Regions from separate parts of the Homo sapiens genome. Here all the other regions are linked to region 3. The links come from fine-mapping of genetic effects on gene expression. A gene starts in region 3. Each other region holds a variant in brackets. All regions are shown on one strand. Distances are between the middles of the regions.

Evidence for each region.
Region 1: its variant is fine-mapped to the expression of TMEM154 in whole blood (INTERVAL, PIP above 0.99).
Region 2: its variant is fine-mapped to the expression of TMEM154 in whole blood (INTERVAL, PIP above 0.99).
Region 4: its variant is fine-mapped to the expression of TMEM154 in whole blood (TOPMed, PIP 0.96).
Region 5: its variant is fine-mapped to the expression of TMEM154 in whole blood (INTERVAL, PIP above 0.99).
Region 6: its variant is fine-mapped to the expression of TMEM154 in whole blood (TOPMed, PIP 0.99).
Region 7: its variant is fine-mapped to the expression of TMEM154 in whole blood (TOPMed, PIP above 0.99).

Annotation. Positions count from the first base shown.
Region 1 is chr4:152,647,211-152,651,278 of GRCh38, reverse strand. The region is part of intron 3 of TMEM154 (transmembrane protein 154); the gene reads left to right. Among named protein-coding and RNA genes, the nearest start is that of TMEM154, 31 kb to the left of the region's middle. The variant T/C (reference allele first, on the strand shown) is at 1,761.
Region 2 is chr4:152,170,945-152,175,012 of GRCh38, reverse strand. No RefSeq gene overlaps it. Among named protein-coding and RNA genes, the nearest start is that of LINC02273, 72 kb to the right of the region's middle. The variant G/TG (reference allele first, on the strand shown) is at 1,606.
Region 3 is chr4:152,677,547-152,681,614 of GRCh38, reverse strand. TMEM154 (transmembrane protein 154) reads left to right here and starts at 1,618. Exons shown (of 7, transcript NM_152680.3): 1 at 1,618-1,745. The coding sequence starts at 1,682. LOC105377495 (a long non-coding RNA gene) reads right to left here and starts at 1,530. Exons shown (of 4, transcript XR_939359.3): 1 at 1,311-1,530; 2 at 942-1,028; 3 at 475-540; 4 at 1-252. RefSeq lists enhancers at 1,535-1,844, 1,155-1,984.
Region 4 is chr4:152,636,045-152,640,112 of GRCh38, reverse strand. The region is part of intron 6 of TMEM154 (transmembrane protein 154); the gene reads left to right. Among named protein-coding and RNA genes, the nearest start is that of TMEM154, 42 kb to the left of the region's middle. The variant G/A (reference allele first, on the strand shown) is at 1,681.
Region 5 is chr4:152,947,247-152,951,314 of GRCh38, reverse strand. All of the region lies in intron 2 of FHDC1 (FH2 domain containing 1), which reads right to left. Among named protein-coding and RNA genes, the nearest start is that of FHDC1, 13 kb to the right of the region's middle. RefSeq lists an enhancer at 1,104-1,398. The variant A/G (reference allele first, on the strand shown) is at 2,215.
Region 6 is chr4:152,624,650-152,628,717 of GRCh38, reverse strand. TMEM154 (transmembrane protein 154) reads left to right here. Exons shown (of 7, transcript NM_152680.3): 7 at 157-4,068. The coding sequence ends at 172. Among named protein-coding and RNA genes, the nearest start is that of TMEM154, 53 kb to the left of the region's middle. The variant T/G (reference allele first, on the strand shown) is at 1,833.
Region 7 is chr4:152,641,238-152,645,305 of GRCh38, reverse strand. TMEM154 (transmembrane protein 154) reads left to right here. Exons shown (of 7, transcript NM_152680.3): 4 at 864-891; 5 at 2,133-2,218. Among named protein-coding and RNA genes, the nearest start is that of TMEM154, 37 kb to the left of the region's middle. RefSeq lists enhancers at 818-877, 2,023-2,092. The variant C/T (reference allele first, on the strand shown) is at 1,748.

The sequences.
Region 1 (4,068 bases), 30 kb after region 3:
TGGGAAGCTGAGGCAGATCATTTGAGGTCAGGAGTTTGAGACCAGCCTGGCTAACATGGTGAAACCCTGTCCCTACTTAAAAAAAAAAAAAAAATGCCATCTAGGACTATTAATAGCTAGAGAGGAGAAATCACTGCCTGGCTTCAAAGCTTCAAAAGATATGCTGACTCTCCTGTTAGAAGCTAATGTAGTTGGTGACTTAAAGTCAATTCTTGTTTACCATTCTGAAAATCTGACAGCTCTTAAGAATTATGCTAAATCTACTCTGCCTGTGCTCTGTAAGTGGAACAACCAAGCCTGGATGTTAGCACATTTGTTTATAGCATGGTTTACTGAATAATTTAAGTCCACTGTTAAGGTCTACTGCTCAAAATACAAGATTCCACTAAAAATATTACTGCTCATTGACAATGCACCTGGTCACCCAAGAGGCCTGGTGGAGATGTACAAGGAGACTAACGTTTTCATGCCTGCTGATACAATATCCATTCTGCAGCCCATGGATTAAGGAGTCATTTTGAATTTCAAGTCTTATTGTTTAAGACATACATTTTGTAAGGCCATAGCTGCCATAGATGGTGAGTCCTCTGATAAATCTGGGAAGGAATCTTCTGGGAAGAATTCACCATTCTAGATGCCATTAAGAACATTTCCGATTCATAGGAGGAGATCAAAATATCAACATCAACAGTATTTTGGAAGACGTTGATTCCAAGACCCATGAATGACTTTGAGGGGTTCAAGACTTGAGTGGAGGGGTCACTGCAGATGTGGTAGAAAGAACAAGAGAACTAGGATAAGAAGTGAAGCCTGAAGATGCCATGGAATTGCTGCAATCTCATGATAAAACGTTAAGTGGCTGAGAAATTGCTTCTTCTGAATGAACAAAGAGTTTTGTTTTTTTTTTTGAGATGGAATCTACTCCTAGTGAAGATGCCATGAACATTGTTGAAATGACAACAGAGGATTTAGAATATTCCATAAACATAGTTGGTAGAGCAGCGGCAGGTTTTGTGAGAATCGTCTCCAATTGTGAAAGAATTCTATTGCAGATAAAATGCTATCAAACAAAGCATTGTATGCTACAGAGAAATCTTTGTGAAAGAGAGTCAATCAATGTGACACATTTCATTGTGATCTTACTTTAAGACATTGCCACAGCCTTCCCAACCATCAGCAACCACCACCCTGATCAGTCAGCAACCATCAACATCAAGGCAAGACCCTCCGCCAGAAAAATAATTACAACTTGCGGAAGGCTCAGATGATCGTTAGCATTTTCTAGCAATGAAGTATTTTAAATTAAGGTATATACATTGTCTCTGTAGACACAATGTTGCACACTTAATAGGTTACATTGTAGGAAAAACATAACTTTTTATGCATTTGGAAACTAAAAAATTAATGTGACTTGCTTTATTGCAATACTCACTTTATTGCAGTGGTCTGGACCTGAACCTGCATATTTCTGGGGGATGCTTTTCTACTGCTGCCATCTTTGACCCTAATCCAGATGAGGATCCTGTATAATTTTAGCCAATAAGCCAGTATAACATTTCCCATCACTGGGGAAAGAGAAAGGCTGATCAAGGAGTGAGTCAGATTAGGGTTAGGGATGGGAAGGCTAGAGGCCTTGGGGTCATCACCACCAGAAGAGCATTCTTTCATCTATATTTCTGTTACAGATTTTATTTTCTCCCCCACCCCACATCCCAATTTGATCTTGAAAAGTCCTGGAGGAAGCATTGTTCTTATTCCCA[T/C]TGAAGCTATGCTAACTTTTATAATCAAATTCTTCAACTGTCTAAAGATTACTAACATCAATCCGAAAACCAATTATAGAAAATTCCCTCAGTCAGAGACCCACTTTGAGAGTATTCAGTTGTGATTCAAGGAGCATCACGTGCTAGGAGTCAGGGTAGTTCTAGGTCTAAAGCAGACTTGGGTACTTTTGGCTTGTGCCAGTAAAACTCGCTCGGATTCGATTTTTAAGTTAAAGCCTTTATAGTCTTTCCAAAAAGTTACTCAAAGGATAGGAACGTCTCTAATACAATACATAGTCATACATGTATACAAAACTCACTTTATGTCCCTCACACCCATGACAGGGCACCTCTGGCTTTGGGGCCATGCCCTTGTCCCACATGCCCACCTCACTGTCTCTGTGCCAGAGGAATCTTTCACAGTCAGCAGATGAGGCAAATGTGAGCTGGGGAAGAAGCCCCGAAGAGTATTTCCTTTCATGGCAGAGGCCCATATAATAGATTCCAAAGAAGTGGGAAATACATGTTTCTCCACTGCTTGAAATTTCAGGACTTCCTAATAACATGGTCATATGGAGGCTTCTTTCTAAGCTTAAGAAAAAAAAGCAAACAGAGCTTTTTAAATTTTTTAAAATTCAGGAAAAGTCATAATTTCCTTCCCCAAACCATGACTGGTTTTACCTAATGGACTCAAGGGGTGGGGGGATGTTGGAGGTATCCACTCACATGGTGAGGCTCTTAGGCTCCAAATCCAGAAATTGATTTTTCATTGAATTTCATTGTGAAAGTCTCAAGGTTCAAAAGCCATTTACAAGCGAGAGCCAGCCTCAACCTCAGACATGGTCCATGCATCCTCCACTCTAACAACACTTGAAGTATTTGCTATTCCCAGAACTTGACTTGACTTTCAGGATGCCTCCATGCCTGGTTGATACCATTTCTTCTGTCTGGAATTTTCTTCCTGTCTGCTTGGCAAACTGCCATCCCTTTTTCCAGGGCCCAGGTCTGTTTTTGTTTTGTTTAAGAGACAGGGCCTTGCTCTGTTACCCCGGCTGGAATGCGGTGGCACAATCATAGCTCACTGCAGCCTCAAACTCCTGGGCTCAAGTGATCCTCCCACCTCAGCCTACAGAGTAGCTGGTACCACAGGCCTGTGCCACCATGCCTGAGTAGTTTTTGACATTTTTAAAAAACGTTTTGTAGAGATGGAGTCTTGCTATGTTGCTCAGGCAAGTCTCAAACTCCTAGGCTCAAGTGATCCTCCCACCTCAGCCTCCCAAAGCACTGGGATTACAGGTGTGAGCCACCACGCCCCCCTGCTAGGGCCCAGTTTTTAGGAAGCCTTGAATAATCCTCCCCTAGGAAAAATTAATTACCATCTCTTCTGTGCTCTCAGAATACTTTGTTCACACTCTTTGTTCACAGTATTCACATTGTCATAAGTTGGTGACTTGTTTCCCTTCCTTCCTTCCTTCTCTTTTTTCTTCTTTTCTTTCTGGGTGATGTGGTCGTTAAGGTCCAGGAGAACCAAGAGCTAGTCTTATTTGTCTTGTGTGACAGTGTGGCATTGAGGTTGAGAGTCCAGACTCAAACCACACACACTGCTTGGTTGGCTTGCACTTCCTGGCACCGTGACTCTCTGATTAAGTTTCTTCATCTGTAAAATGGGCAAATTCAATACCCACCTCATAGAGTTGTGAGAATTAAATGGTTTATATAGGCAAATCACTTAGAAAAAATCAGTACCTGGCATAAGTGCTAAGTGCTAGCTTATTATCATCCCTTTACCTAACTCAACGCCTAGCCCAACACACACTAGCTGCTTGTATATGTTTGTTGAATAAGTGACTTAATTAAAGAACATTAGAATGTTTATTAAAGAACATCTACGCTCAGAGGGAAAGTCAAATTTGTACATTATCCTTACTAAAAATTGGTACATTATTTTTACCTTAAATATGCCTAACTTTAAAAAAAACAACAGAGAAAACTTAGCATTTCAAAACAATTGGCTTATCACAAAAGTTTTTGATGGAGAGTTTTATTTGAATTTTTTTCTCTTATCAGCCAATGCTTTAACACAGACGTGATCACTAACTGCTTAACAGATGGACAACTTTTCAGAAAAACTGAATGCTAAAAGTTAATAAAAGCAGAATATTTACATGAGCAAAATTTGATTTTTTTTCAGGTAAAATACAACTATCATGGAAGGTCATACCAGCGTTTTGCTTGGAAAGCTCCCACAGAAATGCTTTATAGGAGAGCATGGACACCTGCACACTATGTCCCCTGGGAAGTTAGAAGC
Region 2 (4,068 bases), 510 kb after region 3:
TGTAATTTATATTACAATTATATTACACTTGTAATCCCAGCACTTTGGGAGGCTGAGGCAGGTGGATCACCTGAGGTCAGGAGTTTGAGACCAGCCTGGCCAACACGGCTAAACCCCCGTCTCTACTAAAAATACAAAAAAATTTAGCCGGGCATGGTGGCAGGCACCCGTAATCCCAGCTAGTCGGGAGACTGAGGCAGGGAGAATTGCTTAAGCCCGGGTGGCGGAGGTTGCAGTGAGCTGAGAGCACACCACTGCCCTCCAGCCTGGGTGACAGAGTTAGACTCTGTCTCAAAATAAATAAATAAAATAAAATAAAATGTGGAAAGAATAGTTTAACTGTGGGTTTCTGGGACCCAGGTCCCTCATGTGAGCTGGTGATGTTATTCTTGTGTGTGTCACTTTTCTCTTTGGGCTCCTGGGACTTCCCTCTAAGTGAGAATCATACTTGATCTGTTGGGCTATTTAAGATTGCTAAGGGAAGACTGACCCAGACCTCCTTTGGTGATGGGCCTTACTTCTAGGACACAAGGGAAAGGGGCAGCATTAGGACATCTTTCTTCATTAGCCACAGACACTCTGGGTCTCGGCACAGTCAGGACTGGTGAATGGAGAACCCGAGTCATTTGCCTGAGCCCATACGCATGTTCACATGTGCCAGGCGAGACATCTGATGGGGTCAGCTTGTCACTCTGCAATATAGAGCACCTCTATTGGGGTGAGTTGGTGCCAAGCCACCTCAGAGGTGGTTGGTCACTCTGGTGAGCAGCTTGCATTGGTTGGGGCACTAGTCCTGGGTATCATCAGTTGTGGCCCAGGTGGCATGAATGGTCCACTAAATAAAAGTATTAATACAAAGCTGGAGACAGAATGCTGTGCTTTAGGAAAGTGTTCCTCTAAAGGGGGTTGAGGGTGTGGCAGGTCCTTACCACACCATGGATTCTGCTCTAGAATACTCCTGTGTAGGGTAGGTGAGCTTTGGGCAAGACACATAATTGGAAACTCCAGATGGCCTAGGCGGGTGGAAAGGATGGCAGGGGATGCAGAGAAGGAAGTTCATCTCAGCTGTTACCACCTTTGCCTTTTTGTTCCTACCTCTGGGTTCTGGAGGCCCCCTCCTCACTCTAAATCCCTGAGCCCTGGCCCCACCTCATTCATAAGGAGGTTGGTGACCAGATGAAGCAGGAGCACACTTGGAGACCATTTTCATAGTGGGCAAGCCCTGGACTCTGCAGGTTGCCATTGCAGTCTCACCCTGTGTGTCCTGGTAGGAATATCCATCCACCTTTGCAGGCTTGTCTCAGGCAGGAGAAGCACCACTATCAACAGCACCAATGAAGGGAAGGCCAGGAGGGCAACTTTACAGAGAAGCACCTTTTTAACATTCTTTTGTGAGAAGTTGGCTATAGCTTGTGATAAATCCTGGTGGAAGGAGTAGAGCATCTGGAGACATTGGGAAAGACTGCTGGAAGCCCAGGTTTAAATTTTTGCTTGGCTCTCTCTTGACTGGCTGTGAAAGTATTGGAAAATCACTTTACTCTTTTCTCTTTTTCTTCTCTTCTCTTTTTTGTTTCTTTTCTTTCTTTTTTTTTTTTTTTTTTTTTT[G/TG]AGACAATGTCTTACTGTGTCGCCCAGGCTGGAATGCAGTGGCACTATCTCGGTTCACTGCAACCTCCACCTCCCAGGTTCAAGTGATCCTCCTGCCTCAGCATCCCAAGTAGTTGGAATTAGAGACACACACCACCACGCCTGGCTAATTTTTGTATTTTTAGTAGAGACAGGGTTTTACCATGTTGGCCAGGCTGGTCCCGAACTCTTGACCTCAAGTGATCCACCCGCCTCAGCCTCCCAAAGTGCTAGGATTATCAGAGTGAGCTACTGTGCCCGGCCCACTTTACCTTTCTGATACTTAGTTTCCCCATCTTTAAAACAGGAATAATAACCTAATCTTTAAAAAATGTGGTAAACATGAAATGAAAATTTGTCAGGAAAGCATTTTGTAATCCTAAAATGCCATCCTCATGTTTTGTTTCCATTTGTTACTTTAATCATGTTGCTTTTGCTCAATATGGCAGAAAGGTTTTTTTTTTAAATGCAATATTGCAATGCCTCCAGGAAAAATAGGAAAAAAGATAAAGGCTAGAATATCTATTACAGATACAAGCTAACATATCAAGATAACTATCTGGATAATATTAATCCCTTCTCTTAACTAGATATTTGAATCTCCATTTGGTAGTTAATTCCCCCAGGAATCCCATCAAACAGAAAATAATCGAATTAGAACTTCATTTTGTTTTAAAGTTTTCATCACATTCTCTGTGGGTTGTTGCATGTTACAGTGAACATATGGGAGGTTGCATGTAGCATTAGTTAATTTTTGTTAAACACCTTGAAGAGAAGCAACTATGTGAACAGTTGCTAAATCCATATATCATACATGTGTATGACTCTACTCAATGTGTATAAATAAACAAACCGATCTAATTTAGAGTTGACATATAAAAATTGGTAAGGGATGTCACAGGCTAACATCAGTGGAGGCAACATGATTTTTTAAACACTCTTTTAAAACGTTCTGCCCTTTCTCATGGGTAATTTGTCTGTCACGTCCTGATGTTCCAGTTGTCCCATTGGCTCTGTAAGCGGCATCAAAGGCTGAATTTCCCTGCAGGCGAAGGCACGGAACAATAATCCTCTGTGCAAACAGCTGCTTTGTTATGCTTGAGGTAAAAATTGTGATGATGGCAATGTAAACTCAAAAAATCTCCAGCTTGATTTGAAAAATCTTGACAGGCTGTGTTGCAGAGGTCTCTGGTTTGCTGTATGGAGAATCTGCATGCTGGGTCTCTCAGTTTGTTGGGGCTGCCATAATAAAGTGCCACAAGCTGGGTGGTTTGAACCACAGAATTTTTTTTCTCACAGTTCTGGCAAATAGCTGTCCAAAGTCTGAGTGTCAGCAAGGTTGGTTTCTTCTAAGGCCTCTCCTTGGCTTATAGAAGGCTGTTGTATTAGTCAATTCTCATGCTGCTAATAAAGACATACCCAAGACTGGGTAATTTATAAAGGAAAGAGGTTTAATGGACTTACAGTTCCACATGGCTGGGGAGGCCTTACAATCATGGCGGGAGGCAAATGAGAAGCAAAGTCACATCTTACATGGCAGCAGGCAGAAGAGCTTGTGCAGGCGAGCTCCTATTTATAAAGCCATCAGATCTCATGAGATTTATTCACTACAACGAGAACGGTATGGGGGAAACTGCCCCCATGATTCAATTATCTCCATCTGGCCTGCCCTTGCCATGTGGGGATTATTACAATTCAAAGTGAGATCTGGGTGAGGACACAGCCAAATCATATCAGCTATCATGTCCCTGTGTCTTCACATGGTTTTTTCTCTGTGTATATCTGCATCCTAATCTTCTCTTCTTATAAAGGTACTAGTCATGTTAGATTAGGGGCCACCATAATGGCCCCAATTTACTTTAATTACCTCTTTACAGATCCTGTCTCCAAATACAGTCCCATTTTGAGGTACTGGAGGGTAGGTCTTCAATATGTGTATTTGGGGTGAGGGATACACAATTCCACCCATCGCAGTGGGGGAATTTGTTCTTGGTCCAGGGTATCTATTCAGCCTGATAAAAACTTTTTTTTCCCCCAGTTTCCCAAATACTTGCTTTGTCCTATAGCTTATATTTTTAAATTTCCAAAACCACTTCCAAATTTTTTCTGGGGCTGGTTCTGATAGGATGGAAGAGGGTTTCTCTGTCATCTAAAGACTGTAAAGAAGTTATGTTTGGCCTCAGTGCAAGCTGGCGAAAGAAGATCTGAAAAACGAGGACACTTGGGAGTTGATGGGAAATGACTTCAGCCTGAACCGAACTCTCAGGCCCCTGTAATCACTACCAAGTCCCTACAGCTGAGTGGCTACTTGAATGGCTACCCAGCAACATCCAACAGAACATTGTGCAACAGTGGGAATGTTCTATATCCGTGCTGTCCAATACAGTAGCCACTCACCACATGTGACTACTAAGCACTGCAAATGTGATTAGTGCACCTGAAGAA
Region 3 (4,068 bases):
ATAAATGGTAAAATGGAGAGAACTCCCAAGCCCTGGGCCTGCTTTCTTGCACGTGTGTGTCACAGCTGCAGAAACACGTGCTTGTACAGGAATAATTGCCACCCCAACTCAGTACCAGCAGGTCTTGGAGCCCGTGATCTATTCACATGCTCAGCAAGTGTTTAATTAATAGTTCTTTCTCTGTTGTTTTCAAATCAATCACCCAGTTTTGAGCACGTCTATTTTCTCCTGCTGTTTGTTCTGTATTGTCACCTGTGGTGCAAAAAGCATATTTTATCAAGAATTGACTTAATTGCCAGTTTAAAACATTAAAGTGCATACTGTAAATCCATTAACAAACTGATCCTTACATGAATCACCAACCTATTTCTTGTGAATAATAACTGAGATAAACAGTGACTAATGACATTGAAAAGCAGCAATGCATTAAAGAAAAATTAACAGCTATGTCAGGGGCTAAGGAATTCCAGTCACCTCATACGTTTGCACCAACCAGATCACTGAAGACAAACGACGGGAAGTCATGACTCAGATGGTGATCTGCAGGGAAAGGTTTAGAGATGAGATGTGTCTGATGCCTCAACACTACCCCTCTCTCCATCTGTCTGTCTCTCTTGGCACCACGATTATGAAACTGCATTCTGAATGCTTAGGCCCTAAACCTAAACCAAGGGAAGGACCTCCAATAGAACACCCAACACACACTAATCTCCACTGTATACTAGACACAACCTTTCTGTATTGTTTCGATTGGATAGGATTTCTACCATTATTCTATTTCGTTTCTGTCCTGTTTTGTTTGTTGTCTGAGAACTTGATTGTCAAGTAAGAAGGAAGGAAGGTGAGATGCAGATTCACCCCTACCTCCACCCTCAGAGCATATTCTCCTTTGGAAATGGACCTTGAAAAGATCATTTCTCTCTGGGGAAGCAGAACATAACCTTAAGGTGTGGGTGTGGCATCCACCTCCATCTGGCGTGGGCCTTGGTGGGAGGAGGGCATTCCAGAGTGGAGAAAGGAGAATGGACCTGGCGGAGAGAAGTGGTCTGGCAGTTTTCTGATGATGCAGTTGTCCCTGCTGTCTGGGCCTGCGCTATCCAACACAGCAGCCACTAGCCACTTGGAGTTATTAAAATTTTATAAAAATTCAATAAAATTTAAATTCCATCAGCACTAGCCTCAGTTCAAATGCTCAGTGGCCAATGTGGCTGATACTGTATCAGACGGCGCAGACTTGGAACATTTCCATCAGGGCAGAAAGTTCTACAGGACAGCTTCTTCCTAGGGTCTAGGCAGCCCCGGAGCCTCACCTGGGGGATAAGCAAAATCACAGAGTGAGAATGCGTGTGGTCCAGGACCCCTCCCAGTCCCAGATACCGAACGACATCTGAGCAAGGGACTCTGTTGCCCCGGGGACGGTTTCAAAAGCTGGAGGCCGGGACTCCAAAGGGCTGGAGAGGCGTGATAATAGAACCAGTGCTTCAACAGCAACTTCTCTTTTGCAATCCTTGCTGGTCTGACAGGCTCCTGCAGAATTACATCACTTCCTAAAAAACAGGCACACACCTCTCCTTCAAGTCAGCACCGACCCAAACAAGCAGGAAACAGGAAATGTTCACGTTTCAGAGAGGCTGCAGCCCGGCGCAGCATCCTGAGCGCGCCTCTGCCGAGGCGAGCGGACATGCAGGCTCCCCGCGCAGCCCTAGTCTTCGCCCTGGTGATCGCGCTCGTTCCCGTCGGCCGGGGTAAGCCGCCTCCACTTCCTACTCCTGGGAAGGAGGATCGCAAAAGCTGGTAGGGTGCCCGAGGCTACAGAACTCTGCCGGGGAGGGTGACACCCAGAAAATCTAATCCTTTCTGTGAAAGAAGTGGAGAAAATTAGAACTCCTTTTTTTGGGGGGTGGGATGGAGAGGGGACTTCGCTTTCGCTGCAGCTGTCTAAACTGGCTACAGCTCTCACTTCATTTAACCCTCTTTCAGTCTTTGTCTTCCAGGAAGTGTGCGTCCCTGTAATTTACCAGCTTTAATGGGCATATTAAGAAAACCATAAACTTTTTGGCAGTTTATGTAAAAAAAAACAAAAGCTTCAATTGGCTGAAACAGAGACATGATTAATTTGCTTTTTATGGTGTGGGCTGAGAAGTCTGCTGATTCCAAAATCTCCTGGAAAAACTGGGGTGTGAAAATTTACTACTAGAAAGCATACTAAAGAAACGACATAAACTTAAAAAAAAAAAAAGGAAACGGGAAATTATCCGAAGAGCTACCAAAGAGCTATGTGTTAGAGGGTAGCCCTCTAACACATCAAGTAAGGTCTTTCATCTACTTTTATTGCACCTTGTTACTTTTACAGATTTTTTTTTTGCATTGATTGTTACTAATGAAGATTTGTTTGAAAAAGTAATATGATTGGAACCAATCAAAGGTATTGGAAAAAACAATATTGAATCTCATTATTATGGGCTAAAAGCAACAACTGATTTACACCCTTGCCAGTTGCTACAACAAGCACAAGCACCTTCAGCTGCCTCTCTTGTTGACTTGCCTTTGGGCAAATACACTGGCTGCCCATTGTTTCTGTCAATGAACACCGACTGCTTCTAGTGTAGGGCAGTATTTACCAAGCAAAAGGAAAGTTCTCAAGCTACAGTTCTTTAGATAGAATGAGGGACATCAGCCCCAACCTAACAGATGTGACAACTTCCTGGAGGTCAGCAGCCAGCACCCAGCCACCCCACTCCATCAATTTCTCTTCCCCTGGGTGTTCTCCATGTGGTCCCCCAGGCATCTGAGGTAGAAAACAAAGTGGAAGGCAAATCATTCCAGCTGAAAAGATGTCTGGTTAAATTGAGTTTAGTGTTCAGAGTGGGTTTGGAAGTTGATGTGTTGTTTTATGCCCAGTGTTTTGGAGCTGGAAGGGAACTTGAAGATGATGCAGCTCAAACCATATTGGGCACACAGGTGAAGAAACAGAGGTGGAAGAAGGGAGATGTCTGGGTCTTGCTGCTAGTCAGCTCTTCTGGCTTCTACTCCAGAGTTCTTTGAGCTCCTCCACCCCCCACCACCACTGCCCCCCTCCCCCCACCGCCGCCCCGGAACCAATCACTGTCTCTGCCAAGAGCTCTGGAACCTTTCGTAGTAGGACATCAGGGAAGAAAAGCCTAGCCATCCTCCTTCCACCTCTTCTATTGCACAACACTGCCACAGGTGCCTCAAACACTCCCTTAATACTAATTCATCTTGCCTGAACTTTTTTTTTAGCTTCTAAAAAATGATTGAGTCCTAGTGTCTGCAATTCAGGAGATGCAAAAAGAGAATCTGAAGAGACTTGGTTAAAGTTGCCTTTCTGACACCTGAATCTGATCGTGCACATCTTCCCCCTTAAGGACCCCTCATTTATGCCCCTTCACTTGTTCCTCATTTTTGCCCCTTAGACTCTCACTGCAACCTCCTTCCCAGTGGCACCTCCTTCCAGTTGTCGTCCCCCTCCGTGGCTCTTGCCTATAATGAATACATTCTTTTTCCTACCTAGCAAATTCTTGTATCACCTTAAAAGTATCAAACTAAATGTGATCTCCTCCTTGATGTCTCCTTTCTCTGCCCCTTCCCTGGAGCTCTACTCGTACCTGCTGCTGTGCCCCGATAGACCTAAACTTCTGCTAATCACTTTGAACCATAATTGTGTCCATGCCTCCCAACTGGCTGTGAACAGCTCCAGGGAAAATCCTCTGTAGTTCACCTTTGACTTTCCAAAATCCTGTAAGGGCTCAGCATAAATGAGAAAATAATTGTTGATAAATATGAAAATCATCCCTAGAATGGATATGAGGCTGATTACAAAAAAAACTGATAGCTCCTGAAAACAGGTAGTGTTGGAATGTAAAGAGAAGTCAAAGATGAAAAGTTGCATTTCAGTAGAGTGCAGGGATTACCTAAATAATCCAACATGCTAATTGGGCCCTGCTGGGATTCCCAATGTCTGAAAAATGCCCACTTGCAAAAAGCTGTTGAATAAAAGCTATGACTTTGAGATGATTCATCATGGAAAAGGTGATTTTAAATTAAAGA
Region 4 (4,068 bases), 42 kb after region 3:
CAGAAGTCTGGTGCCAGTCAGTCACTTGTCACCAGGCAACCCCTGAAGCCTGAGCATCGCGAGGGAATACTGATTATTAGGCAATGGTTGGGGGCAGTCAGATGTTTATCTTCGGACCCTTTTCCTGCGTCTCCCCCCTAAACCTCACTTAAGAATTCACCATCCCAAATCTCTCCTCACATCACACCACCACAGTCTTACTCAGACAAACCTCAGCTCTGATGCCAAAGTCTATACCTATTGTAGATTTAGGTCAATATCACCACCCTAGGCATTTTCATGTTAAGATTATTGCCAGTTCAGGAAGGATTCTATCCTATTTAAAAGAGATTCCAGGTCATGCTTGGTGGCGCTTGCCTGTAGTCCTAGTTACTTGAGAGGCTGATGTGAGAGGATTGCTTGAGCCCAGGATTTCAGGATTGTAGTGAGCTATGATTGTACCACTGCATTCCAGCCTGGGCAACAAGCAAGAGCAAGACCCTGTCTCTAAAAGAAATGGGGAGAGAGAGAGGGAGAGAGAGGGGGAGAGAGAGAGAGAGAGAGATTGATTAACAAGCAGGTGGAAGAAAACAACAATGCCAGGGGGAATATTACAAAGGAATATTTTCCCCATGTTTTGATCTTACCTGGAAATATGTAACTATATATGTCTGGTATAGGGCTCAGATCACTACTAAAACTCCATAAATATCTTAAGTATCTTATTACTCTATCACTGATGAGCAACCTCAATGATGCTAAAAACTACCCTCAGTGGTTTTTACATTCCTGCCTTTTGCTCTTTGAAATTGTTGGCAACATGGAAGAAGCTTAACATTACAGAATTGTATGGCAGTGAAATCTTCTTAAAAATCAGATTTTTGGCCAGGCAATGTGGCTCATGCCTGTAATTCCAACACTTTGGGAGGCTGAGGCAGGCAGATCACCTGAGGCCAGGAGTTCGAGACCAGCCTGGCCCACATGGTAAAACTCCATCTCTACTAAAAATACAAAAATTAGCCAGGCGTTGTGGCGGGCACCTGTAATCCCAGCTACTTGGGAGGCTGAAGCAGGAGAATCCCTTCAACTGGGAAGGCGGAGATTGCAGTGAGCACTGATCACACCATTGCACTCCAGCCTAGGCAACAAGAGTGAAAGAAATTCTGTTTCAAAAAAAAAAAGTCAGATTTTTGAAATAATGAGAAAATGAGCTAGAGCCTTCACATAGTTAAATGATTGTTTTAAAAGGGAAGGTCTACATTCCACTGTGGGTCCAGAGCTGTGTGGCATTCACAGGATGGCTGTCAGGCCTTCACTTTATGCCCTCTCGTAATGCCAGCACCAGCATTCGAGAACCAAGAATGGCAAGTCCCAGATCTTTGTACCACTAGGCACTTTCTGATTACTTCAAAGGTTATTATGATATTGCAAAGTTAATTTTTTATTCATTAAAAAATCTAAGAAAAGTACATTGGATTTAGAACAAAGCCCAGAACAAAGTAAGTTCTCAATAAGCACTGGTTATTGCTAGTATAATTATTAGGAAGTTAGGACTGATGTACAGAAACTCACTGCCTTTATACTAAGACCCAGCTCACTGGATTAAAAAAAAATTCACTTCCTTTATCCTAAGCCTGTATCCTAAGACCCAGACACATCAATACTGGTGGGCGAAGCATTATTTTTGTCCCTGTGTTCCCT[G/A]GTGGTTTCTTTCTGGACCTACCAATCCTGGGAAATCAGGAATTTGTTTGATCTACTATGAGACTTTCAGTTCTCCTTAATTACTGGCATAGGCCCATTAATGTTGGTGATTTCAGAATAGTCCACTTATCACTCTGGAGTTTTTTGGTGTTTTGTTGTTTTGTGTAGAGACAGACTCTCATTCTGTTGTCTAGGCTGGAGTGCAGTGGTGTGATCCCAGCTCACTGTAGCCTCAACCTCCTGGGCCTAAATGATTCTCCCAACTTAGCCTCCAGAGTAGTTGGGACCACAGGTTTGTCCACCATGCCTGGCTAATTTTATTTTACTTTATTGTGGTGACAGGGTCTCCTTATGTTGCTCAGGCTGCTTTCAAACTTTTGGGCTCAAGCAATCCTTCTGCTGCCTTGGCCTCCCAAAGTGTTGGGATGACAGGAGTGAGCCACTGTGCCTCGCCCAGTCTGAAGTTTTTAAAAGGATAGTAACACCTTATAATTTGGATAATCTTTCTTTTCTGTCATAATTTTATGTACATTTCTTTTTCCTATCCTAATGTTTTAATTAAATTGATAATCCATAAAATGTTTACTTTGAGTATCTACCCTGGGACAAAAATAAGATTTCTTTTTTCTCTAAAAGCTTGTGAATTGTTATAGATACAGGTGGAAAGTGCATTTGTGGGTCATTGGACTTAGAAGACTCATTTTAAGACCTAATTTGAATGCTTGTTTGTTCTTTAGACTAAAACAAGTCACTTTAGCTCTCTGAGTTTTAATTTCTTCATCTTGAAAAATGGAAATAAGAACATCTGTCCTTCTAGTTTCACAGGATGATATAAGAGAATGAAACCACCTAGCTAGGTTTTATTTTTATCTTAATTTTTTTTTTTCGAGACTGAGTTTCATTCTTGTTGCCCATGCTGGAGTGCAATGGTGCAATCTTGGCTAACTGCAGCCTCTGCCTCCTGGGTTCAAGCAGTTCTCCTGCCTCAGCCTCCCAAGTAGCTGGGATTACAGGTACCCACCACCACGCCTGGCTAATTTTGTATTTTTAATAGAAATGGGGTTTCACCACATTGGTCAGGCTGGCCTTGAACTCCTGACCTCAGGTGATCCATCCACCTCAGCCTCCCAAAGCGCTGGGATTACAGGCGTGAGACACCGCACCCGGCAGTAGCTAAGTTTTAAAGCACCACGCAAGTGAAACTAATTATTCTTATGCAGTGGCAATTGTTCTTCCCCCTCCCACACTGGGATTTTAAAAGATTATTTTTAGGGCAGTTTTAGGTTTACAGCAAAATTGAGCAGAAAATACAGAGTTCCCATATACCCTCTGCCCTCACACATGCACAGCCTCCCCCATTATCAACGTCCCCCATCAGAGTTCTACATTTATCACAATCAATCAACCTACATTGACACACCATTATCACCCAAAGTTTTCCATTGGCTTTTACCTTGTGCATGATTCTTCCTCTGTCATTGAAGTAGTATACAGGTGAATTTAATGCTTCAGAAAGTATGTAACAGTCATTAAAAATTGAATTTAGTGGAAGACACACTTCTCCTTTCTCCTGATAAACAAAGCCTTCTGGAATTCATTTACAGGGTTCCACTTTCCTTGATGCTAGAAAGACATGCCTGACATAGAACCTCTGTTATCTATTAAGTCCATAGAACCTACGACCACCATGCTTCTGGGAAAAGGGAGTCAATCTGATAACCATCCTACACTGAATATACCACATTGTGTGCAAAGACTTCAACTCTTCAAGCTTGTCTTGTTAGGGTCTGTAATCTCAGGCCTTTCAGAACTTTATCCTTGTCTCATTGGCCAGTCTTGTTCATTACTTTCCTCTGTCCTCATTGAATGGATATTCTTCCTGAGCTATGGAATCCGAAAGACAGCACAGGATTTTAATAAGGACCAGAGATGTACAAAATACTATGAGAAGTGGACACTATGGTTTTCATGTTTGAAAGAAATCAATAGGAAAAGCAACAAAGGAATCATGGGGGAGGGGAGTGTTTCATATTCTTATTTTCCATCTTAGCATCTTTTCCGTGATTCATACCTGCTATGTGCCTGGCACTGCCCAGGGGCAAAGTGTCAGTGGGAGGAGGGTGCTAGGAGGGGTCTGCCCTCAAGTTGAAGAGAATTTCATCCCTGATCTGGTTAAGCATTGCCAACACATGGTAACGACAGAAAACAGATCCTTTTGGTTGGTTTTATTATTGTTTTAACTTCTGTGTAGAAAACACACTCCCTTATTGCCTAACCCCACACTCACAACACCCTCCCAAATGCCACTAGATAGTGGTGCAAACAAGAAAAAGTCCCTTTTATCATGACTCTTCCAATCTAGCCAGCCTCTTCCTTCTTCTGGAGGCA
Region 5 (4,068 bases), 270 kb before region 3:
GGTCATACCAAAAAAGGAATCTCGATTTATTAAGACAGAAAACTGGGTTCATTAGAATTAATAAATTAAAAGGCCATGCATAAGAATCTGTATGTTGATATAGTTACACAGCACGTTCAAAGAACTTCCTCTGCATTCACCTAGGATGGATAAATGACTTGTTTCGTATTCCTTTCATGAAAGTGCCACCTTCTGCTACATTCAACCCTTGACTGCAGTGCTCTCCCACACCCCACGTGAACCAAGCCCCACGCTCATCCTGTTCACCCCTCAACCCTCTGGGACTCTCTTCACTCAGCCTAGATCCGGAGACATTGCTGCAGGAAAAGTGAAGGAGAAAATTACTCTTATGATCTCTACTGGACAGGTAAGGAAACTAAGCCTCATAGACATCATTTTATAACTTTCCCAGAGCAGTGTTGAACTGATAGGTTAGCCTGGTTCTCTCTGACTCCTTTTCACTCTAGTTTCTGTGGGTTTTCACATTACTGAGCTTCCTATAGAGACGTAGCAAACGTTCCCTACCAGCATGGTGCTTGCATTGTGAGTTTTCTCCAGGAATGGGGACAGATGTGTAAGAAGCTATACGTGTGCCTGGCCAAGTCCCCTGGTGACCCCAGAGCTGTATCTGAGAGATGACAGATGGGAATCATGTTCTCCCCAGGCAAGAGAGCCTCCAGGGGCCTGAGCCCTGGCCCTACAGGAGCAGCCCACGGTGCCCCAACACAGGGGCAGCCCAGCTGTAGAAGCAGGCGTCTCTACAGCTCAAGCTGTGTTTCAGAAACAAAGAGAATTGGGTGATATTCCTAAGGGAAAACCCGAGCTGGCTGTGACTGAGCACCTTACAGGAAAAACAGAGCCCAGCACTTCACCCAAACAACATTAAAATGAGACAACTGATATCATTCAGGGACAGTCCCACTCGCTCCCGGCATCCTCAGATTTGCCTGGTGTCTGAGGAGTCTCTTTCTCCACTTTATCGCATTCGATCCTTCCAAAGCAATGTTATAAGGGTGACTGTTGAAGTCCTTTAAAGAGGGTTATCACTGCACATGTAAATTAGCTTATCTCACTTCCCAAATGCTTGCTCTCTCAAAGCTGGGCCATTCAGAAACAAAGTCGGGTCGGGTTGGGTGGTGTTTTGGAATCATTCAGAGCAGTGGAATCTGCACATGGGATCCCAGTGGGACTCACTGGCTGCACAAGCTGACAAATCAGAGGCAAGAAACTGCCCAAAGAAGAGGGATAAACAAACCCAGCCAATGAGTGAGCTGCATCATCCCCTCCCTCCCACCAGCTCCGATCAACCGGTAATTACTCCTCTGGTCACACCAGGACATGCAGGCAGGACCGCCACAGAAGTCGGTGCCACGGGTACAGTCAGCATACTGCAGAGTTCGTTACCTCTTCCCCCAAAATTCCTACCAAAGAGTGGCAAACAAGGCAGCTTGAAATATAAGGTAATGAGGTAATTAACGCACTCAACTCATTTCAACATTTCAAGGATTTCCTGCTAGGATGCGAAGGGGGCCTGGGCTCTACTCACAGTTTCCCCGCAACTGCCAGGGGGCCAGGGTTGTGCTGATACCCACTGAAACAGTCAGCAGCACTATGCCACTCAGTGAGACATGTGGCTACACCATCACTCTTGCTAAAACCTCCAAATCAGCTCTTCTAGTTTATTCTACTACAACTTTTGTAGTTTCAATTCACTTCATCAATCCACTACAAAATCTGCCTCCCATATCCTTTGAAGGAAGAAGAAACTTTTTTTCAGTTGTGGTAAAATACAAATAACAATTGCCATCATAACTTTTTATTTATTTATTTTTTTAGAGACAGGGTCTTGCTCTGTCACCTAGGCTGGAGTGCGGTGGTGTGATCATAGCTCACTGCAGCCTCAAACTCCTGGGCTCAAGCAATCCTTCTGCATCAGCCTCCTGAGTAGCTAGGACTAGGGATGCATGCTGTCACACCTGGATAATTTTTAAGACATTTTTTTGTGGAGATGAGGTCTCACTATGTTGCCCAGGCTAGTGTTGAATTCCTGGCCGCAAGCTATCCTCCTGTCTTGGCCTCCAGAAGTGCTGAGATTACAGGTTTCAGCCACCATGCCTGGTCCATAACCATTTTCTTCTTCTGCTTCTTCTTCTTCTTCTTCTTCTTCTTCTTCTTCTTCTTCTTCTTCTTATTATTATTATTATTATTATTATT[A/G]TTATTATTACTGAGACAAGGTTTTGCTCTGTTGCCCAGGCTGGAGTGCAGTGGCACTATCTCAGCTCACTGCAACCTCCAGCTCCTGGGCTCAAGCAATCCTCCTGCATCAGCCTCCCGAGTAACGGGGACTACAGGCACGAGCCACCATGTCTGGCTAATTTTTAAGTTTTTTGTAGAGATGGGGGTCTCACTAAATTGCCCTGGCTCCATAACAATTTTTAAGAATACAGTTCAGTGGCATTAAGTACATCCACATTGTTGTATAACCATCACCACCATCCATCCCCAGAGCACTTCATCTTGCAAAACTGAAACTTTGTACCCATTAAACAATTAACTCTCAGCCCAGTGTGGTGGCTCACACCTGTAATCCCAGCACATTGGGAGGCTGAGGTGGGCAAATCACGTGAGGTCAGGAGTTCAAGACCAGCCTGGCAAACATGATGAAACCCCATCTCTACTAAAAAATACAAAAAAATTAGCTGGGCGTGGTGGTATGTGCATGTAGTCCCAGCTACTCAGGAGGCTGAGACAGAAGAACTGCTTGAACCAGGAGGTGGAGGTTGCAGTGAGCTGAGATCATGCCACTGCACTCCAGCCTGGGTGACAGAGGGAGACTCCATCTCAAAACAACAACAACAAAAAACAATTAACTCTCCATTCCCCTCTCTCATTTCCTGGCAACCACCATTCTACTTTCTGTCTCTATGAATCTGGCTACTTAAGTACTTCCTATGAGGGAATCATACAGTATTTGTCCTTTGCGACTGGCTTATTTAGCATAATGTCCTCAAGGTGAAGGAAGAAACTTTTAAACCACTTTTGTTTTTTATGTCAAAGGGGGCTTCTTTACCTACTTGAGTAACACTACATAGTGGCTATTTCCATCCCACTTCAAGTCCTGAAAAACAAAAATGTGAAGATCTTCCTCTATCCTCCAATATGGACCTAGCTTTCGGGTTTTGATGGTTTTTCATTTTCTTTTTCACTTTAGTTGGCTGTCAATTGGAAATTGTCCTCTCTCCCAACTTTGGGGAAAAAAAAATGAAAATCCAGTTGAAGCACATTTTTTCCCAAATGTATTTGAAATGCTCTATCTAGTTCTACAGTTCTGGACTGTGAGCATATCCCGAAATTCTGGAACATACCGGCATCATAACAAAAGGTGAGAATGACTGACAGCTGAATTATAGTGTGGGAGAATAAAGTATTTATTACTTGTCATAAATTTAGAAAAACCAATCTTCCTTCCATCCTTCCCTTCTCTCTCTCTCTCTCTCTCTCTCTTCTGTGGTCTTCTTTTTCTAATTAGCCACTTTACTTATTTCCTAGATGGTCAATGTTATATTGCTACAGACATCATAGTGAATGACCTGAGGTGTTTCAATATTTCTGCTTTCTTTGTGAGCCCCAATTTTGATCTGTTGATGCCTCATAAGCTGATCCCTTTGTGCTCTTGGTTCAGTTCTGTCCAGTTCAGTAACCTTTTGTTTCCTTTAGAGGATACCAAATGGCTAAGATACAGCCCTCCCCTTAAGAGCTGGTCAAACTGTAGAGGCAGACACGCACACCCTCAGCTAACACTGGTGGAAGGCTCCCAGGGGGCCTGAGGAATGTCAGTAATAGAGGGTCAGGAACTACAGAGCTTCTCAGGGGATGGGATCAGCCAACTCTGAGAAGAAGATGAGTTTGAGCTGAATCTCTCTCGTCTCATCCCCAGTAATATGTCTTTATTTCTAATTGCTTTATTACAGTTTAATTATTATTATACCATCATATCTACAGTCTCTTTGAGTTAATTTTTAGTTAACAAAGATACAAGGATAGTAACATTTCATATCTTCCCATACT
Region 6 (4,068 bases), 53 kb after region 3:
TTGCAGTGGGCCGAGATTGTGCCACTGCGCTCCAGCCTGGGCGACGGAGCCAGACTCCGTCTCAAAAAAAAAAAAAAAAGAAAGAAATATATTACTGTTTTGTGTGTGTGTGTGTGTTTTTTTTGTTTTTTTTTTTTTTTTTTTTTTTTTTTACAGTGACAGTGAATCCTAAACCTGAATGGCGCTCATGTTTTCCAAGAGAAGCAGCCCCTGAGGGAGTCTGCTGAGGCTGCCAACAGAGGATGAAGAGGATACAAATTTAATTAATTTCAAATCAACATAGACACAAGAACCTTTTGCTGTTTCTTCCAACGCCCACTCTTCCTAATGATGGCATCACTTGCACTTGGAAGAATGTGCAATTGAGAAGTACTAGGAAAAGGCCTGGCTGCCATCCATCGCTGCCTCTGAGGGTGGAGAAGGAGGCGGGTGATGTGCTCACTTCTGATCAACATGTGTTGCCTCCTCTCAGCCAACTTCTAGCTCACTGAACTCACTCTGGTCATGATAAATGTTCGTCACCTTTCTGCTTCATTCCTTAGGGCCTAAATCAGGAAGCTGTTTTATCGATGGTTTCCTTTTGGGTCAGTAACCAGCTTTGGATAATTTCCTCTGATTATTCAAGTCGTGGGACAGGTAAACTACATTCAGCAGGAACTTTTCTCGAGGAGTGTTATGTCATGGAAAAGACACCAAACACAGCAAGTATTTTAATGAATACACCATCCCAGGGGGTCAGTAAGCTCTGCCTGCCAAGAAGACACAGTGAGAGGGGTCCACAGTCCTGATGAGGTGGCGTTTGGTAACTTGTAGACCCTAGCATGGCCAGGTCTGGTCACCCTTAAGAACTTCTCAGAGAAACTAGGAATCTTCAGTGAAAGAACTAATGTTCTCCTCAGCTGAAATTCCCTTGCTTGTCAGCATTTCTGCAAAGCTCACACTTGTTTCACCATACCTCCCTTGGATGTGACATGTAGGTAGGAAGTATGTGCAGGTGGGAGTCATCTGTCAGCCTTCTATGTTTCAGAGATCCTGAAGGTGGTTTGAAACAAACAGAAGAGGAGCAGGAAATATCCGTGCCTGTGGCAGATCTCACTCATCATGCTTAGCATTCTCTCCCGCCAAGCTGGGATAAGCCTCATGTCCTAACACAGCACAACAGGAGGTCTCTGTCAGTCCATCAGAGATGACATTCTATGTGATATTTTTGACATCCTTGTGCTAAAAGCAATGGCACAAAATGGAAAAGGGCCTATTGACCACACCTACTCCAGTAAAATTGTTCTTCATTTATTCCTTAATTTTCTAAATCTGACCCCTTTAAAGCAATCTAGCAAATTGAGAATCCTCAGCTCTCCTTGGATACCTGATATTTTATTTCAAGAAAGAGACAAAGAAGGAAAATTTTATTTATTTTACTACCCACATATAAACCGAAGGGAGATGGGACTACCCAAACATTTGCTGCTCAATTTTGTGTCTTGTGCTTGAAAGTCTGCCCTAATGCATAACAAAAACTACTTGTCTCCTACCTTTTGGGATCCCTTTAACAAGTATTTGCCTTCTGAACTACGTGGATAATTTCAAAGGCAGAGTTCCAGACCAGAGAGGTCTTTCCATACAATGAAAGCTATAACTAGCTGGTTGTGTTTAACCACTGCTATCACGCTATCCTGGGACTGCATAGAACTTTGACAAAAGACAGACTTCATGGTACACAACTTCAACAGATTTTCTGTCATATTCTCACCAGCACATCTGAATGAGGCTTTGTGTTTTCCTTGCTCTCTTGCATGTTCCTTTTCAACTCATGGCCCACAGTGACTCTCAGA[T/G]ATTTATGCCAAAATTGCATACAATTGTTTTCTGAATCATAACTTGTCTATTTTTCTGCCTATGTGTGCTACTTTCAGTTTGTTTCTCATCAACATTTTGACTCTCAGAAGAGCCTCCATTTGCCCCTTTCTCTCTTTAGGTATCTAAGATCTTTGAACACCTGGGCCTTTACATTTGATCCAACCCTATCAAATAATGAACTTCTCAGAGAGGCATCTGGGGTCCTGGAACTTCATGTTGATGAAGTCATATTATATAATATGATAAAAATATTCTCATGCAGTATTTTAAATAATTTCAAATTCTAGAAGAAGCAAATTTCAGCGACATGTCATTGAGTTTTTATTTGGTAAAGCTATAATTGTGCAGTGTACAAAGCACTTTTTAAAAAGATAGTTTATTCTGTCAGGGTATATGAAGTTAGTATACAGCCAGAACAGCCAAGCCTCAATTCTTGTACCTTGTGTCTTTTTATTACTGTTTAATCAATAGATATCATATGTTTATGACAGTTTCAAGAATTGTTTTTAAACCCAAACTTAATTTTATGTTTCAGACTATTGTTAAAAAAACAAAACAAAAACCAAAAAAACCCTCACTAATTTGCCCTAATTGGATAGGGCAATCAGAACAAAATCTGACTTTCGAATATTTAAAAGATATGTAAGTTTGATTGCATTTTCGTACATTTTAAGCAAACTAGGTTAACAACAACATAGCCTAGTCAAACTTCTCAGGAAACTTGTTTTAATAAATATGTAAAAATACCCATTCATGACTCTTGACCCAATGGTGTGACTCCTCCCTCTGGGAAGGGCTTTGTTACCCAATGCAAGACCACAGCCTGGATCCACCTTGATGTAGGTGGCTCCTGGATAACCCACATCAAACAAATGTGATAAAGATGAGTAAAACTGGTCTTGGGAAAATAATTTCATAGTTTTTTTTTCTCCTAGTTATGCTGTATAATACAGGAGAACCAAAAGCTGTAAAATTATTTTATTTTATTTTTTAAAGACAGGGTCTCACTATGTTGCCCAGGCTGGTTTCAAACTCCTGGGCTCAAGCAGTCCTCCTGTCTCAGCCTCCCAAAGTGCTGGGATTACAGGCATGAGCCACTGAGCCCGACCAGCTGTAAAATTATTATATTCATTTTCACTATGTGCTACTTCTTCTCACCTGACTTTTTTTTTTTTTTTTTGAGATGGAGTCTCACTCTGTCACCCAGGTTAGAGTGCAGTGTCACGATCTCGGCTCACTGCAACCTCCGCCTCCCAGGTTCAAGCAATTCTCTTGCCTCAGCCTCCCAAGCAACTGAGATTACAGGCCTGTGTCACTATGCCCAGCTAATTTTTGTATTTTTAGTAGAGATGGGGTTTTCACCATGTTGGTCAGGCTGGTCTCAAACTCCTGACCTCAAGTGATCCACCAGCCTCGGCCTCCCAAAGTGCTGGATTACAATTGTGAGCCACTGTGTCTGGCCACACACTGACTTTCACTGTAATATCTGGATGTTTTATGTAACATATCTGGGCAATAGGGCTTATGGCAGAATTGGCCCTCGTGGTGTAGGCCTTCCAAGTTCCAAGTCTCATTTTTAGTATTCCTCCGTTCCAACCCCTGGATCCACCAGTTCCAACAGCCTGGATCCACCTTGATATTGACAGCCAGGCAGATGCTTCTGCTGATCACCGCAGCTCTAGCAATGGAAATGGATATGTTAAGAAAATACTTGTCTATTCTTTTATTTTGGTGGTTTAAACTATTAATTCACACCATCTCTGAAAAAAGGCCTTATGTTGACTAAAGAAAACATAGGCTTTAGTTTCAGCTTCTGTCAGAATTAGTACCAATTCTGAATCTGGTGGAGTGATAAGACATGGTTTCATGCTGGGAAGACACTGCTGAAATCCTCCTTGTGGGAGAACATGGAAATTTTATACTGAATTAAATTAACGCATGTGACTTTTCACATTCAGAGACATTCAGGATGAATTCTGGGGTTTCCATTTAATAGCTATAACAGGCAGTCCAGAACAACTTCACATATAGCAGCATTTCTGCTATGTGACAATGACCAAAAGAGTTCCTGTATATTAGTGTCTAGTGGAATATTTCAAATTGCAGAACCCAGACAACCAATTGCCTGAATTATTATTATTTTTTGTTTTTAGCAACTCTTTGGCTTTATCTTGATACTGTCTTGTCTGGCACCAAAGTTTTATTTCCTTCTTA
Region 7 (4,068 bases), 36 kb after region 3:
ACCCCAGTGCTGGACAATTGAGGTTAACACCTAATCATTTATTCCACTGATATTGACTAGGCATTTACAAGGTACTGTGGTAGCTGGCTCAGAGCTGAGGGGATACCACGATAAATAAGACAGACACGATCCCTGCCCCTTTGTACTTTGTCTAGTGAGAGAGACAGACAGAAAAAAAAAAATCAAACAGACGGGTTGACCAATGAGAAATTGTGGCCAATATTATGAAAGATGCAAGCAAGGTGCTGAGCTGGGGAGCAACAGGAAAGATGGGCCCTTCTTTAAATAGAGTAGGTGGGGAAGGCCTCCCCGAGGAAAGAGTATTTAAGCTGGGACCCTGAAGTTGTGAGGGATCCAGCCATGCCAAGAGCAGGGGTAAAAGGAAAATTCCAAGGGGAGCCCTTGATGGAAGATCCCACATCCTCCACCAGGAGTGAGGCACAGTGTCACAGTGTTCAGCATGGTGTATCACAGGAGATGAAGCAGCAGCCTTTAGATCTGGGACATTTTACTGAAGGAGGCCAAGGAGCAAGCCCTCTTGTTTCACCCTCCCTTGCCTTTCCTTACCAATGTTTTCCTCTTCTTGTGGATGTAAAAAATAAAGACGGATGAACATCTGGTCTGAAGTGAGCGTTCTCAGCAGACCATCCACATCTAAAAGAAAGCAGATTTCACACGGATTAGGACCTCGTTTTAATATGGCAATCCACACTTCTTTGACTCTAAGTTAATGATCGCTCCTTTAAAAATGTTACTTAATGTCATTTTGCTCTCTTTGTAAAGGAGACTTCAGCTGTTGTTGAAATTAAAAGTTGTTACAGAAGAACAAAGCTAACATGACCTTTATGTTCATTTCCTTTTAGATGAACTGGGAAGTGAAAACGTGAAAGTGTAAGTTTTCCCTGCTGCTTCTGATCCACCTGGGGTGTGAACAGCAACTGTTAAGGTGGACAGCTGCCTTTTCAGGTGTTTTTGTTCTGACATCTTGCGGGACTCTCCTGCTTCCCAGGCGGGGTTGGAGATCCTTGGCAGCCTGAGGGAGGATGTGCTGGCATCCCCAAACCCTATCCAGCGTGTGAGTGTGATCTGGGCAAAGACAGCTTGGCATCTGTTTTATTTCATTGTCCTACATTCAGAAAAGAATCCTGACTGCTACCAATTTCAAGTGCATAGCAGTTAAATATTCTATCCCTAGCTGTATTTCAAGGACATTGGTTCATTTACTCTGATTAGAAATTTTATCACCAGGAAAGATACTTGAGCTGGTATTTAGCAGGGAGCCCTGGTCGAAGCAGAAGTTCACACAGCAAGAACCCCCAGGGATGGGAGAGAGAGAGGAGGAGAAGGGAAGAGTGGGAGGAGCAGGAGGAAGGGAGAGGAGGGAGGGAAGGAGGGGTGGGAGAGAGAAAAACAAGCCTCCACTCAGAAGCATGTTCTGGGGTGATGCCATATCCTCCCCATCTTCCAAGCAGCCTCCTGGTTTAGAAACTTTATCGCTTCCTCTACGCAGTGTACCGCCTACGCTGCTTTCAGAGCTGGTGGTCCATCCTTCCCCAACCCCATCTCCACTAACCACGGACTCTGTCCCCTGACTGTGCACTTTGAGCTTCTGCAAGTGAGGGCGGTGAATTTCTGAAAGCAACTGCTCCATTTCTCCAAGAGAGAAAGGCCTGGGAATTGAAGGGACAGGTGATAACTGTAGCCTGTTGACAGTGGCCTCTTGACCTGGGGCACTGATCAAAAAACC[C/T]CAAGGAACAGGAAGTGAAATTAAGCAAGGCTAAAATGCTTCATATGGCAACTCCCCGGAAGGGCCTCACCCTGGGAGCCTTGCAGACTTGACTTTGCACCTTCAGGGGAGCAGTCAGCCTCCTGGGTTCCCTTTTTTGTCCACTTGTTGGGCCTGTGGGCACCCCACTTTTGGACCTGTGATAAATGTATGTTTGTTTGTGTGGTAGCCTTTCTTCCTATTAAAGTTTGGTAGTTTGGAATAGGGCAAGCCCCCAGGCTTCCCTAGAGCATAAGGCACTGAATCAAGTTCATCTTCCTCAGGATCAGCATTCTAGTCTCTTTCCAAATGAAATTAGGCATCTTTCACATTTCTTTCTAACAAGTCTTTTGCTCTCTATTTCTAGCCCTATTTTTGAGGAAGATACACCCTCTGTTATGGAAATTGAAATGGAAGAGCTTGATAAATGGATGAACAGCATGAATAGAAATGGTATGTGGTAACCTAAAGTTGTTTTTTTTCTTTCCTCTCTAGTAACAGAAGGCTGCAACAGCTTTATAAATATCTCAATAAATCCTGGAGTGAGACAGAAGAACCCAATCCCACATTAGATCTGGTACATGCAGATAATAAACCTGGTCTGACAATACTTAAATATTCAGCTTAATTGTTGCCACTTGTTTTTATTTCTGTACAAGTTGTTGAAATGGTCTTTTTGAAGCAGAAAATGGTATTTTATTCAAGAAAGGAAATCTCTGAGGCCAAATGATCTGGAAAAAGTTAGCATCTGGCATTACCTTATACATTACAGAATTTAAAGATCTACAATTTTAAACTGACTATGGATATAAAACTTTATCAAATGTAGTATCCATAGATCTGTGCTGTTCAACGTAATAGATAATCACCAAATGTGGCTATTTAAATTTAAATTAATTAAAATTAAAATTAAAAAATATTGAGTGTTTAGTAGCCAATGGCTACTAAGTGGACAGTGTAATGTAGAATATTTCTATCACTTTAGAATGCTCTATTGGACATTGCTCATGTAGATGGTGATATACATACCCCATATAACAATTTCCAATTGATATCTGGCAGTAATGGAAGTATATGTTCCTTACTTTTTAGTAAATCAATAATGGGACTTTAAAATGATGACAGCTGCTTTTTCTTTTTCAAATTCCCTTTAAAAATTAATTATTTTTACTACTTAGATTAAATGAATAAAACCCAGCATTATCATGTCATTTGTATTTTTTACCATTTATCTTAAAAAAATACCCTAGGGTCTGTCAAATTCAACACTCTACAGTAGAGTTAGAAAATTCAGAGACTGGTTATAAGAACTATTACTACCAGGCCAGGCACGGTGGCTCACGCCTATAATCCCAGCACTTTTGGAGGCCGAGGCGGGTGGATAACCTGAGGTCAGGAGTTCGAAACCAGCCTGGCCAACATGGTGAAACACCATCTCTACTGAAAATACAAAATTAGCTGGGTGTGGCACATGTCTGTACTCCCAGCTACTAGGGAGGCTGAGGCAGGAGAATAGCTTGAACCCAGGAGGCGGAGGTTGCAGTGAGCCGAGATTGTGCCACTGCACTCCAGCCTGGGTGACAGAGCGAGACTCCATCTCAACAAAAAAAAAAAAAAAAAAAAAAAAAAAAAAAAAAGAATTATTGCTACCAGAGGCTTATCAAGGTGTGATTTCAAAAAAGAGCCACTCAGCTAACTTGTACAATTTCTAACAGTTTTTCATATTGAGGAAAGAAGGACTCTGTAAAGCCATTCTATTTGAGGATGGGGCGGGTCATTGAGATAGTCCTTCAGGAGTCTCGTTTTGTTGTTTTTCAGTTGCTAAAAGTAATATGCATACATAGTAGAATTTGGAAAATGCAAAAAAAAAAAAAAAAAAGGTAGAAGAAAAAAATTCACCACAGAAAGGCAATCTCTTCTTGCTATGTTGTTGTATTACGTTTTGTGCCAGAGATTTTGTGAAATATAAAATCATGATTCTGTCATACTCACTAAAACCAGAAAACTGGAAAAGGCATTTCTATTTGACAACTAAAGCTGAGTTATTTTGACACATAGGTGATAGAATCAAAGAATTTTTTTGCCCTTAAAAATAACGAGTGGTGTAATAGAAAAGAACTCATGACCATAGGAAGATCAGCTGTTTTCCCACTTTACCCAATTCTTTCCTACCGTGCAATCTGATGGAAATCATTCTGCAGACACGTTGGAACCTCAGGCGAAGCCATCTTATTCCACTGTCTATCCTGAGACATGCAGATTCTAGCTTTTGGAGCACTGGGGTGCTGCAGGGACAGAATAAC